2 linked regions of the Homo sapiens genome follow. The protein of the gene in region 1 purifies or fractionates together with the protein of each later gene. This does not show direct contact. Each region holds a gene or a part of one and is shown on either strand. Other genes may lie near its edges.

The links. Proteins that work in one complex are often made in the same cells at the same time.
Region 2: the proteins of CTRC (region 1) and SUMF1 purify together in Homo sapiens (affinity purification with mass spectrometry; 3 studies listed by BioGRID and IntAct, with this or other methods). This does not show direct contact.

The regions. Positions count from the first base shown.
Region 1 is NC_000001.11:15,434,095-15,441,443, reverse strand, and holds the start of CTRC (chymotrypsin-C preproprotein), read right to left. Parts: upstream 3,002-7,349; 5' UTR 2,980-3,001; coding exon 2,940-2,979; intron 1,145-2,939; coding exon 1,053-1,144; intron 952-1,052; coding exon 854-951; intron 1-853.
Region 2 is NC_000003.12:4,464,250-4,471,440, forward strand, and holds the start of SUMF1 (formylglycine-generating enzyme isoform 1 precursor), read right to left. Parts: upstream 3,021-7,191; 5' UTR 2,997-3,020; coding exon 2,727-2,996; exon of another isoform or gene 2,575-2,726; intron 1-2,574.

The DNA of each region.
Region 1 (7,349 bases):
ATTTCTCAACCATACTGACAGGTCTCTCCTCCAAGGCTTTGCATGGCTGTTCCCTCCGCCTGGAACACCCTTCTCCTAGATCCATGATTTCCTCCCTCACTTCCTTCAGGCCTTTGCCCAAATAACCCCCTTTTAGCTCTCCGAAATGTCCCAAATATTTGCCAAATATCCCCCTTTCAGCTCTTCCCCTGGCCATCCCTTTTAAAACTGAACCCCTCATTCTGTTTGTCCTCTTCTGACCTTATTTTTATTTTTTATTTTTTTGAGACAGAGTCTCACTCTGTTGCCCAGGCTAGAGTGCAGTGGCGCCATCTCGGCTCATTGCAACCTCTGCCTCCCGTGTTCAAGTGATTCTCCTACCTCAGCCTCCCGAGTAGCTGGGATTACAGGTGCCCGCCACCACGCCTGGCTAATTTTTGTATTTTCGGTAGAGACGGGGTTTCACTATGTTGACCAGGCTGGTCTCGAACTCCTGACCTCAGGTGATCCGCCTGCGTCGGCCTCCCAGAGTGCTATGATTACAGGCGTGAGCCACTGCTCCTGGCCAATACCTTATTATTAGTATTATTTTAAATCACCTGAGATGCTATATATTTGTTTAATTGTCTGCCGCTCTGTCTTCCACAAAAATATAAGCTTCCCGAGAGCACAGACTTTGTCTTCACTGCTGGTTCCTGGCACATAATAGATGCACAATGAATACTTGACTGACTAAATGCACAACTGAGTTACTGGGTGTGAGTAGATTATGTAGCCCAGTGCCTGGAGTGCGGAGAAGCTGCTCAGAAAAAGCAGAGTATCAGGCTTCCGCCCCCGGACGATGGCCAGGTCTCAGGGTATCATCCCCGCACACCTGATGCAGTGGGCGGCAGTGAGGACGAAGTTGCTAGCAATCAAAGTCCCGCCACACGTATGCCTCCACGTGTCGTTCTTGAGGTACTGGAGGGAGATCTGCAGGAGGGTGGGGAGGGCTGTGTGTCAGCCTGCAGGTCCCTGGGACCCTCACCCCGCCACCCTCTCTATCTGTACCTCCCAGCCCTACACAGGCTTACCTGCCAGGGCCAGCTGTGGGGCCGGGCATCCTCTCCTCCCACCACTCGGGCGGATAGGTTGGGCGGGAAGCTGGGCACCCCACAGCTGGAGGCTGGGGAGACAGGAGGCCAGAAGAACCAGTGAATAGGGCTGGTAGCCCACGGGGAAAGGGGTGGGAGGGTGGGCAGGTGGAAGAAGCACAGAGTTGGGGCTGGGCAGACACGGGGTTGATATTTTACTGTGTCACGGGGGTAAGCCACCCAGGTCTCTAGGCCTTGTTTTCCCTTTCTGTGAAATGTGAAGAATCACACTAATGCGGTGAGTTTGCCCTGAGAACTGAATTAGACAACACATAAAAAAGAAAGCGTTTGGCCGGGCACGGTGGCTCACACCTGTAATCCCAGCACTTTGGGTGGCCAAGGCGGGTGGATCGCTTGAGATCAGGGGTTTGACACCAGCCTGGCCAACATGGCGAAACCCTGTCTCTACTAAAAATACAGAAATTAGCCAGGCGTGGTGGTGCATGCCTGTAATCCCAGCCACTCAGGAGGCTGAGGCAGGAGAATCGCTTGAGCCTGGGAGATGGAGGTTGCAGTGAGCCGAGATCGTGCCATTGCACTCCATCCTGGGTGATAAGAGCAAAACTCCATCTCAAAAAACAAAACAAAACAAAACAAAACTGGCTGGCATGTGTGCGAGTGCCCGGTACACCTGTGTTCTTCTGTCTGTTTTTAGGCCCCTGCATCATGGTGTGTGTGTGAGAGAGCAGTAAATCCACTGTTATAGCTGGGAAGCTGTGTGGAGCGGTCAAGAACACGTGCTGTTCCGCGAGACAGACGTGGACTCAAATTCTGCCTCTTCCACTAACCTGCCATGTGATGTCAGGCAAGATACTAAGTCGCACGGAACCTCGATGTCCTCATCTGTAAAATGGGGCTATGAAAAGACCCTACCTCTTTTTCTTTCTTTTTCTTTTTTTTTTTTTTTTGAGACGGAGTTTCACTCTTGTTGCCCAGGCTGGAGTTTGATGGCGCGATCTCGGCTCACTGCAACCTCCTCCTGGGTTCAAGCAATTCTCCTGCCTCAGCCTTCTGAGTAGTTGGGATTACAGGTGCCCGCCACCACGCCTGGCTAATTTTTGTATTTTTAGTAGAAACGGGGTTTCATCTTGTTGGCCAGACTGGTCTCAAACTCCTGATCTCAAGTGATCCACCCACCTCGGCCTCCCAAAGTGCTGGGATTACAGGCGTGAGCCACCATGCCTGGCAATAGACCCTACCTCTTAAGGTTGTTTTGAGGATTAAATTGGCTCCTACATGTAAGGGGCCTAGCATAGCGTCTGGCACATAGTAAACACACAGGAAACAGGAGCTGCTATTATTACTGTTGTTGTTGTTAGCTGGAAGGACTCTTCATTAAGTGCTCTCCTTTGCCAAAAAAGTTAGTGAGATTTAGAGAGGTGAAATGACTTTTCCAGGTCCTGCAGAGAAGAAGTGGCATTTAAGCTAAGTCCCTGGGCTCCTAATCTGGGAAAACGCCACCAAAATGATGGAATGGAGAATCCTCAAGGGAGAGAGAATGCTGGGAAAGGCAGACCCCGATGGTCCCTGGGGTGAACCCAGGATGAGGCATCTCGTGTCCCTCCCCCTTGCGTGGTGCTTTCCACACCTCATTTCTAACTGGGGACACGTCAGATCATCTTCCCTGTTTTGCAGATGTGGAAACAGAGTTGGCAGGCAGGCTGTGGCTTGTCTGACACACAGCTGGTTGGTAGCATCTGAACCCACAGGGGACCCCAAAGTGTCTTACCTGGAGAGCAGAGGCCCCCCCACTCCCCATCCCGTCCTTGCCCTGGAGGCCAGCCCGAGCTCACAGCCTGCTAGCTGCAGCCCCACCCCACCGCTTACCACAGGCCAAGAGCGCAGCGAGGACAGTGATGCCCAACATGGTTAGGTGCTCAGGACTGGCTGACCATCGGGATGGGCTGGGGCACACTTATAGGCAGGAGCAGGTGAGTGCACCTGGTCAAGGCCAAACCGCCCCTTGGAGAGAAACCTGCTCTGATAAGGCCCTTTCCCTGACCTTGGGTGGTTACTGTTTAATTTGGGCAGGAGACAGGGCTTTCTTAGAAGTATGGATTTTCCAAATATCCTGAAACAGAAAATTCTGAGTTGCAGTGCTTTTTGGCATCCCCCACCCCACTCTGTTTGACGTGTGTGTTCATTCTCTCTCCCTACCTTATACTATTTATTTATTTATTTGGAGATGGAGTCTTGCTCTGTTGCCCAGGCTGAAATGCAGTGGCACAGTCTCAGCTCACTGCAACCTCCACCTCCCGGGCTCAAACGATTCTCGTGCCTTAGCCCCCTGTGTAGCTGGGACTACAGGCGCCTGCCACCACGCCAGGTTAATCTTTTGTATTTTATTTATTTTTTTGAGACAGGATCTTGCTCTGTCACCCAGGCTGGAGTCTCAGCTCACTACAACCTCCGCCTCCCGAGTTCAAGCGATTCTCCTGTCTCAGCCTCCCAAGTAGCTGGGACTACAGATGTGTGCCACCATTTTTTTTTTTTTTTTTTTTTTGTATTTTAGTAGAGACAGGGTTTCACCCTGTTGCCTAGGGTGGTCTTGAACTCCTGAGCTTAGGCAATCTGCCTACCTCAGCCTCCCAAAGTGCTAGGATTACAGGTGTGATTACAGGCCGTTACCTTATTCTTTTTAGTTATTTATTGGGCACCTACTGTGTGTCAGGCATTGCGCTCAATTCTTCTTGCATTATCTCACTTAATTCTTCCAACAACATGAAATAGACGCGGTTATCTGCTCTGAGGTGAGATGAGAAAGGACCAGGCGCAGTGGTGCATGCCTGTAGTCCCAGCTACTCCTGAGGCCAAGGTAGGAGGATCGCTTGAGCCCAGGAGTTCGAGGCTGCAGTGAGCCGTGATCGTGCCACACTGCATTCCAGCGCGGGTGACAGAACAAGACCTTGTCTCTAAAAAAATAAAATAAAAGTGAGGAAGCTGAGACTCAGCGGGTAAGTGACCATCTAGGGTCACACGGCTGGGCAGCAGCAGAGCCAGACTTTGAAGCCAAAGCTTCTAACACCAGCCTGGGGCTTCAAGCTGTGGAGACATGCTGCTCCTTCTCTGCCTTTCTAGTGCTATTGGATCGCTTCCTGGCTCTCTCTCTGTCTCATCTTTCTAATTGCCTGGGCTTGATGCACTCCTGCACCTGCCTCCAGGGCTGTGGTTGGAGGCAGGGATGCAGCAGGCTCTGGAAGGTGCTTAGTTGGCCAGATTCCTTCCTGGAGTCAGCTTAGTTGTAGGTCCTCAGTTTCCCCATCTCTAAAATGGGCAAAAGGACCAGATGGACTTTCAGGCTCCTTTCAGTTCTACAATTCTGTAACTTGAATGTCAAGGTCAGTGGCAGATCTGAGGGCCCAAAGCACTGAGTAGCAGAAATTCTACCAGAGCCTCCGGCATTCGGGGTTGGCCATCCCTTGGAACATGTGGTTTGATCCATTCGCCCCAAGGCCTGGCCTCAGCCTGGTTGGTTAGATTCTGTCTTTCGTTTCCCCTCTACTCATACTGAGCTCCCCTTGAAGGTCATTTTCTGAGCTGGGCCTACTGGCCACCTTAGGAATTCCTTCCTGATAGAAAAGTTCAGAGCACTACGCACCCCGCCATTCATAGCGGTGATCTGGGGGTGAAGGAGGATTCTAACTTACACTTTTTTTTTTTGAGAGTCTTGCTCTGTGGCCCAGGCTGGAGTGCAGTGGTGCGATCTCAGCTCACTGCAACCTCCACCCCTGGGTTCAAGCAATTCTGCTTCCTCAGCCTCGCGAGTAGCTGGGATTATAGATGTCCACCACCATGCCCGGCTAATTTTTGTATTTTTAGTGGAGACCGGATTTCACCATGTTGGCCAGGCTGGTTTGTTTATTTATTTATTTATTTTTTGAGATGGAGTTGGAGTCTCGCTCTGTCGCCCAGGCTGGAGTGCAGTGGTGCGATCTTGGCTCACTGCAACCTCTGCCTCCCAGGTTCAAGCAATTCTCCTACCTTACTTAGTCTCCTGAGTAGCCGGGACCAGTGCCACTGGCTAATTTTTGTTCCTTTTGTAGAGACGGGGTTTCACCACGTTGGCCAGGCTGGTCTCGAACTCCTGACCTCAAGTGATCCACTCACATAGGCCTCCCAAAGTGCTAGGATTACAGGTGTGAGCCACCATGCCTGGCCTCTAACTACACATTTTTATGCAGCTTAAATTCTTTTTTAAAACAAACATAGTTACCTTGGTAGTATAAAAATCAATAGGTTTAATTTTTTAAGAAAGATAAAAGTGGGAATGTGCACTGGGGGCTCTGCTCAGCTATGGTGACATCAAGGCCTCAGTCCTGGGGTGTCTGGGGACTTCAGCCTGCGGGGAATTTTCTGTTTCATTTTGGAGGTTGGTTGTGCATGATACAGGTTTATCAGTGGCTACTGGCCAGTCTGCTTCAGACCCAGGGCTTTTGGTTGCCAAGCCTTGCAAAGGGTCATTCTAGCCTGGAAACTGGGAACATAAGCAGAGATATGGCTTGAGCTAGGTGATAGGTCTTGGAAATTAGCAGGGTCTGAAGCGGGGAGACAGGACACCTGGTTTCCATCTCAGTGACAGAATGGATGACCCAGACCCTGAGCAACCTCTTTGAGCCTCAGTTTCTCTCATGTCCCTTGATCAACTTGGGAAAATGAATTAACTGGGCGTCTCCTTGTAGGAGCTCATCAATTTATACTCAGAGATACAGCAACTTGTTAGCACGCATCTCAGCTGTGTATACATGCCCATGGATTCACAAGTATACGTGGACAGGCGACGCACACACGCACATACACACACACGCACACACACATGCACACACACATGCACACACATGCACACATGCACACACGCACACAAACACATGGACACACACGCACACACACATGCACACAATGCACACACCCACGCGCACACATGCACACACAAACATACACACACATATGCACACATGCACACACGCACACACACACATGCACACACACGCTCCTCCACGTCCACAAATATGCACACACCAATGATATAATACATATAAAGCATTCGGTTATGTGTAGAGCCAAGCAGAGCCATGGGCCACCCATTCAAACATGTACACAAACATAGAAATAGCCAAATGGATTGATGATGAGGTCCCAGGTGAAGAGAGTTATTGTCAGCTCTTTGAAGGTTCACAGAGAAACTGACCTTTTTGGAGGGAGGTTGCTGGCTGCTCAGCTATAGGGAAACTTGCTTGTTTTGAGACATCTACAGGGAGGGACCTTTTATGTAAGGCAGCACCAAACAATTGTCCCTGGAGAAAACCGAGGTCGCCCTTAATCTGTTTCAGATGCTGAAGACAGGATGTTGAGTGCTTTGCTTAGGGTTGAACTAAACCCACCACTATTGCTTCATAGCTCTATGGCCTTATGCTTGTGACGCAACCTCTCTGTGCTTCCTCGTTTATAAAGTGAGAGTGAAAACGGTACCTTTGGCCGGGCACGGTGGCTCATGCCTGTAATCCCAGCACTCTGGGAGGCTGAGGTGGGCAGATCACCTGAGGTCGGGAGTTCAAGACCAGCCTGGCCAACATGGTGAAACCCTGTCTGTACAAAAATACAAAAATTAGCCGGGCATGATGGTGGGTGCCTATAATCCCAGCTACTCGGGAGGCTGAGGCAGGAGAATTGCCTGAACCCGGGAGGCGGAGGTTGCAGTGAGCCGAGGTCGTGCCATTGCACTCCAGCCTGGGTGACTGAGCAAGACTCCGTCTCAAAAAAATAAAAAGAAAAAGAAAGAAAATGGTACCTCCCTCCTAGGGCTGTTGGAAGAAGTGCCTGGCATATGGCAAGGACGGTCTAAATGTTTGCTATTACTATTATTATTGTTGTTATCTGGTTCTTATGAGAAAGCTTGAGACTGGACTTGGTCACTGAGTACTTTTGCCTTCATGGGCCCCTTTCTCCATTTAAAAAATATTAAAAACTGGCTGGGCATGGTGGCTCGTGCCTGTAATCCCAGCTACTCAGGAGGCTGAGGTGAGAGGATCCCTTGAGGCCAAGAGTTCAAGACCAGCCTGGGCAACATGGCGAGACCCCTGACTCTAAAAGAATTTAAAAAATTACCTGGGTGTGGTGGCACATGCCTGTAGTCCCAGATACTCTAGAGGCTGAGGTGGGAGGACTACTTGAGGCCAGGAATTTGAGGCTGCAGTAAGCTATGATCATGCTACTGCATTCTAGCCTGGGTGACATAGAGAG
Region 2 (7,191 bases), on another chromosome or scaffold:
CCTCCAAGGCCTAGCTCAAATGTGGCCTTTTTTTTTTTGAGGCACTACTCGACTTGTCCATGAAGAATTAATTCTTTCTTCCTCTCCAGGTACTCTGGACATATCCCTCCTATAGTATTCTCACTATAGAAAAATGATACTTATGTGTGTGTCTGTGTGTGTTTGTGTGTGTGTGTGTGTGTGAGAGAGAGAGAAACACCTACCAGAGTGTAAATGCCATGTGGGTAGTGTATGGGTCTTTTTCTGTATGCCCAGCACATAGGATGAATCTTACATAACAAGTGTTATATAGTAATGTGCCAAATAAACATTTGTTTAATTAAACCAAATAAACAGAAAACAAAGAGGGGAAAAAAGGCAGAAACACCACTATGCTCATTTACTTCTCCTGAAATATTGGAGTTCCTGAATTTAGAATAAATGGTAAAGTGTCAGAATTAGACCAAAGTCATCTGCACATGAACTAAAACATTTGAAACCAAGGAAAATAGAGAGATTAAGAACAGCCTCCTATGACGTCATTGTCTTGATAACAAGACTGCTTCAGTTTCAGTCATTAAGTTCAGCCCTTGAAGGCTTGAAGGTATATTCTCATCAACCACTAATTTGTTAATAAATTGAGATGCCCCTAAGCATTGTAGAAAGCAGACTATAAGAACTGGCCAAAGATGGCCCATATAGCATCCAGTCAAGACACAAAACCACTCTATAGGGATGAAAAATGTACATCTTGTAAATGTAATCCAAAAGATTCTAACATCCACATCCCATTCTGGAACCCAGAGGAAAATAGAATGTTTAAAAATGAAAAATGTTCAATGCTTGCCAGAGGAATCTAGATAAAATTTTGAGACAGACCAATGTATATATGCAAATGAGATGGCTGCCCTATTAAAAAATAGATAAACAGATGTAAGGATTTCTCCTTAGAAAGAGGGACAGACTGGCTTGGCGCGGTGGCTCACGTTTGTAATCCCAGCACGCTGGGAGGCCAAGGCAAGCGGATCACAAGGTCAGGAGATTGAGACCATCCGGGCCAACATGGTGAAACCCCATCTCTATTAAAAATACAAAAATTAGCTGGGTATGGTGGCGTGTGCCTGTAATCCCAGCTACTTGGGAGGCTGAGGCAGGAAGGAGAATCATTCGAACCCAGGAGGTGGAGATTGCAGTGAGCGGAGATCGCGCCACTGCACTCCAGCCTGGTGACAGAGCGAGACTCCGTCTAAAAAAAAAAAAAAGAAAAGAAAAAAGAAAGAGAGATTGATTATCAATTACCAGGCAAGTTAGAGAGGAATTAATATCAAGTATGGCCAATACACACTAAAACAGTAATCAGGAGTCTTCAACACACAAAAGATAAACAGTACTGCAGGACATGCTCTAAGGGTAACAGGAAAAAAAGTAAAGGCCAAAAATTATACAGGATGGAAAAACAATGAGAAGCCCAGGTATCAACCTCCTACACTCTACACCTGAGAGACTAAATCATGGTCCTGACCCCATCACCCTCACAGTCCAGTTGGGGAGAGACATCAGCAGAAAAACATCTTTAATAATTGTTATGTCAGAATAAACACATAACTACTGAGGCAGGATACGGAAATATTGAAGGGGAGAGAAAGAGGAGATCAGGTAAAACCTACTGTGGATGTTACCTCTCACCTAAGTCCTAAATATTGGTCAGGATTAACCCAAAGGAAAGAAAAATGGAATGGGAAAAGGATAGTGTCTGCTAAGTAAACAAGAAGGAGCACTAGTTTAGGAGTCAGAAGACCTGACCTTTAGACCCATAAGTTGTTTCGACAACACATCAATATGCAAAATACCGGGCAGACAGATTGAAGTAACAGTTATTTCTTTCTTTCTTTTTTTTTTTCGAGACGGAGTCTCGCCCTGTCGCCCAGGCTGGAGTGCAGTGGCAAGATCTCGGCTCACTGCAACCTCCGCCTCCCGGGTTCCAGCAATTCTCCTGCCTCAGCCTCCCGAGTAGCTGGGATTACAGGCGCCCGCCACCACGCCCGGCTAATTTTTGTATTTTTAGTAGAGACGGGGTTTCGCCATGTTGGCCAGGCTGGTCTCGAACTCCTGACCTCGTGATCCGCGCGCTTCGGCCTCCCAAAGTGCTGGGATTACAGGCATGTGAGCCACCGCGCCCGGCCAGTAAGTTATTTATATATCCCGGCACCTAACACATACAGGCGCTAAGCAAGACAGATAAATAATAGCAATAAAACAACTACAGTTTGCTTAGCCCTTCCTAAGTGCTAAAGTGCTAAGAATAGCAGGATAAACAATTCAAGCCCTTGTCCTCAAGCAGAGTGTACTCGAGGAGACTACAGATAAGTATACAACAACCCTGGTGAAGATACTGAGACCCAGGATCCTAATTTATTCCGTTAATAAGAGAGGAAATGGTGATTTAAACCATAATTTGATTGCCTTAAAATTATGAGATCCTCATTAAGAGAACAGGTTGGAGGGAGAAAGAAATAGGGGGTAAAGAAGTAACAATAACCCTCAAACCAAACTCCCTAATGGTCAATTAAATGGAGTCTTCCGGTGAGGCACGGAGAAGGAACTCCTCATACGGGAACAGCAGGTGCTCGATTTGGGGTGTGGTTATAACCTTTACTTCCCTTCCTACTAGTGCCTTGCTTTGCCTACTCCAACCCCGTCCAGGAACCGAGCAGCCCCCACCCGCCTCGGAGGAATCGATGGAGCACCTTTGAGTGCGCGAGTTGCCGCTCTCCGGGTACGGGGCCCGGAGCGTTAGCCTCCCGCGAGTATCGGTGAGCGGCTGCCGAACTGCCATGGGCGCCAGGCCGCTGGGGCGTGCCGCAGCCGCAAGAACCCGCAAGGGACCCCGCGCCCGCACCGGTCCCGGCCTCCTGGCTCCCTGCCGCTCCACACAGCAGCGAGAGCAGCAGCAGCAAGAGGACGAGACCCAGCTCAGGGCAACGTCCACACACCAGCCCTAGTGCGGGCGCAGCCATGTTGTCCCGCGGGCCATGTGACCCGGTTGGTCACGTGGCTGAGCCCTCCTTAAAGGGGCAGAATTTTGAGCTGACTTACGAAGTGACCAGGAGAGTTGCTCTTCACCTTTCTTCAGGTACTTCTTTGGCGCTGCTGCTTGCCTGTGCTAACGTCAAAACGCAGCAAAACACAAAACTCCACAAAACTCAAGGCCTTCCACAGACCGTGCACCCCTTTATGATTTCTTGGTTGAAAAATAACAGTCAAATTTGCTGGGCATTTGGTAAGTGCCAGAGTACTATGCTAAGCACTTCACTTTTTAAAATCTCATTTAATCCTCACAAAGACCCAGTAATGGCGCGCTTGTAGTCCCAGCTAGTCGGGAGGCCAAGGCAGGAGAATCGTTTGAACCTGGGAGGCGGAGGTTTCAGTGAGCCCAGATCCCGCCACTGCACTCCAGCCTCGGCGACAGAGCAAGACTCCGTCTCAAAAAAAAAAGAGAAATACAATACGGAATCAGAATCCGTGGGGACTGGACACAGCAATCCAGGGTTTCACAAGCTCTCCAGATGATTCTAATCCACACTTAAGTTTAAGAACCACTGTTCTACAGTTCCGTAATCGAACAAAATGCAAAACCAAAACAAAAAGAAGATGAAGGAGAAACTTACAGATTAAAAAACAACATAGCAGGCCGGGCGCGGTGGCTCAAGCCTGTAATCCCAGCACTTTGGGAGGCCGAGGCGGGTGGATCACGAGGTCAGGAGATCGAGACCATCCTGGCTAACACGGTGAAACCCCATCTCTACTAAAAAATACAAAAAATTAGCCCGGCGTGGTGGCACGCGCCTGTAGTCCCAGCTACTCGGGAGGCTGAGGCAGGAGAATGGCATGAATCCGGGAGGTGGAGCTTGCAGTGAGCCGAGATGGCGCCACCGCACTCCAGCCTGGGGACAGAGCAAGACTCCATCTGAAAAAAAAAAAAAAAAAAAAAACATAGCAGCCAGCTGCAATATGTGAACCTTATCTAAATACTAATTCAAACCTACTGAGTTCAAAATTTTTGAGATAATCAGGGAAATTTAACCACTAAGTCAAATTATAATATTTGATAAAATTAAGGAATTGCTGTAAATTTTGTTTTTAGGCTTTTAGGAGTAATAATGGTATTTGTGGCTATATTTTTTAAAAGAATCCCCTCACTGAGGTACACACACACTCACTGAGGTATACACACACACACACACACACACACACATATATATATATGGATAAAAATATAGGCAGTCAAAGATTTGCTTCCCAAAAAATGGGTAATCAGGGTCTGGCTAAAGATGAAGCATGATTGGCCATGAGTTGATAACTGTCATAGCTGGTTGATGGGCATCTGGGTGTTTATTGCACTATTCTAATGTAGCATCTGTTTGAATTTTTTTAGCATAAAGAAAAGACCAGCCAGGCACCGTGTCTCAAGCCTGTAATCCCAGCACTTTAGGAGGCCGAGGCAGGAGAATCGCTAGAGGCCAGGAGCTTGAGACCAGCCTGGGCAACACAGCAAGACCTTGTCTCTACAAAAAATTAAGAAAATTAACTGGCCATGGTGACGCACACCGGTGGTCCTGGCTACTTCGGAGGCTGAGGCAGGAGGATCACTTGAGCCTGGTAGGCAGAGGCTGCAGTGAGCCATGATTGTGCCACTGCACTCCAGCCTGGGTGACAAAGTGAGACCATCTCTCAAAAAAAAAAAAAAGGCCTTTTCTCCTTGTTGACTATTTTACAGTTTGCCAAGGCCTTTCACACATTTTCTCATTTGAGATTACAACCACTTGGCAAGAAATGTATTATTACTATACTCATTTCAAAATTGATGAAGCTAAAAGGTCAATGCCTTAACCAAGGTTGTATGTATTTACTGTGCATAATATATAGTCAAGGTCTAGGTCAACGGTAATCTTTGTTCGCCTCCTTCAAATATCAGTCTCAGCACATGCTGTGTCAGCTGCGCTTCAGAGACCTGAACTTCTTTGATTCCTGGTCCAGCTATACCATTAGGCTATAACCTCCATGAAGGTAAGGCAGGAGCCTATTCGTTTGCCACTGTATCAGCAAAATCAGGCCAAGCCTGCACATGATCACTCAGTGAACATTTATTAAATTATGGATAAGTGAATGAACAAATGAAGTAACGATTATCTCTTTCTCTTAAGGGGAATCAAATTGTGGAGAAAATAATATAGGTCTTAGACTCACAAAGAGCTGTGGTTAAAGCTGGCCACTTTACATGAAGTATGACCTAGGCAAATTATTTCAGCTTTCTGAGCCTCTATTTCTTCGTGTGTGAAATGGGAATAATAATTCCTTTTTCTTATAGATTTTATGGGGATTAAATAACACAAAGTATATAAAAGGTGTAGCCTGGTACCTGACATTTAACATATCTCAAAAATAACTTTGCTATTACTAATCATTATGAAAGATGGAACTTTGTTGGTTCTCCAGGACGATCATTCTTTTGTCTCAGGCTAACTTTTTAGTCAATAATCAATGAGTATGAGATCGATGAGAGATTTCTCATCAATATTTTCCACTCTAATATTTTGCTCCTGTCAGTGAGGAGGCTTGTTCTAAAAATTAAGAGGTAAAAAGTCCAACTCAGCCATCAGCTCGTACGAATTAGTGTAATTATATAAAATATCTCTCACCCTCCGTCTCACGTGTGAGCTCCTTCTGCATTTTGTAGCCTTTCTTGCTCCTTCTATCTCATGAAGCTGGGAGGATGAAAGACCCCAGTCCTGAAAGCAGCTTGTCTGCTCACTGAACATCAAAGAGTTCAGCATGGCTACAGTGGAGTGAGCAAGGGGGAGAGAAGAAAGGAAAGGAGATGAGAAAGGTAACATTGGGCCAAGTCATGGATGAAAGGAGAACAGAAAGGTAACATTGGGCCAAGTCATGGATGTTCTGGTAAGCTTTTACTGTGAAAGTTGGTGCCACTGCAGTTTTGAGAAGACATCTGACACTCTTCCTGCTGAGCAGCATCAATTTTCCCTCCAGGTTAGAGGCTTCTCTTGCTTTCTGGTTCCTGAACACAGGGAATGCAAAGTGCCCTGATGGTAGCCATGGCTTGTAGTTCAATGGGACCCTGGTTGTGTCCACAGAAAGACAGCATCCCTTTGTGGATCAGGACCTGCAGCTCTGCAGAGCTCAGAGTTGCAGGGATGGGAGAACAAAATCCCAGTAAGTCAGTAGGAGTAATAGTAAGTGGGGCTACTTCTACTTCCACCTCTTGGTGGAACCTATATATTCTTCCTACGTGGGAACAAGTCTGACATCTCTAATTGAGGGCGTATACTGCATCCTTATAGATGGCCCCATCTTTGCAGGAAATTGCATCCAAGCTGGCGTTTCAGCTGTGCTTTCAGTAAGCCATTTTCACCCTTTATGAGGCCAGCTGCTTTGGGTTCGTATTGTAAGGGATAAAACCACTGGATTCTGTGATCATGGCCTACCCCTGCACCTCCTTCACTGTGAAGTGGGTCCCCGGTCAGATGTCATGTGGTGTAGGAATATATGCCTATGCATAAGGCATTCTGAAAGCCCTCAGACAGTGATGCTGCCTGAGGCTCTTGGAGTAGGAAAGGCACAAGTCAAAATGTTATCTACTTCACACGTGCAGGACACTTGGCTCCACTTTTTGGGTTTGATGAATAATGTTGATATGAACATCCATGTACAAGTTTTTGTTTGCACATGTTTTCATTTGTCTTCATATATACTAGAAGTGGGATTGCTGGGTCATATGGAAATTCTAACCTTTTGGGTTTGGGTTTAAAAAAAAAAAAAAAACAGGATCTTGCCCTGCTACCCAGGCTGGATTGCTGGAGTGCAGTGGCATGATCACAGCTCACTGCAGCCTCAACCTCCTGGGCTTGAGAAATCCTCCTACCTCAGCCTGCAGGATCACAAGCTGCTACCACGTCCAGGTCATTTTATTATTTTTTTGTAAAGATGAAGTCTCACTATGTTGCCCAGGCTGGTCCCGAACTCCTGGCCTCAAGTGATCCTCCTGACTTGGCCTCCCAAAGTGCTGGGATTATAGGTGTGAGCCACCACTCCTGGTCTTGTTTAACCTTCTGAGGAATTGCCAGACTTTTCCAAAGTGGCTGTACCATTTTACATTCCCACTAACAATGTATGAGCCGTCCAATTTCTCCATGA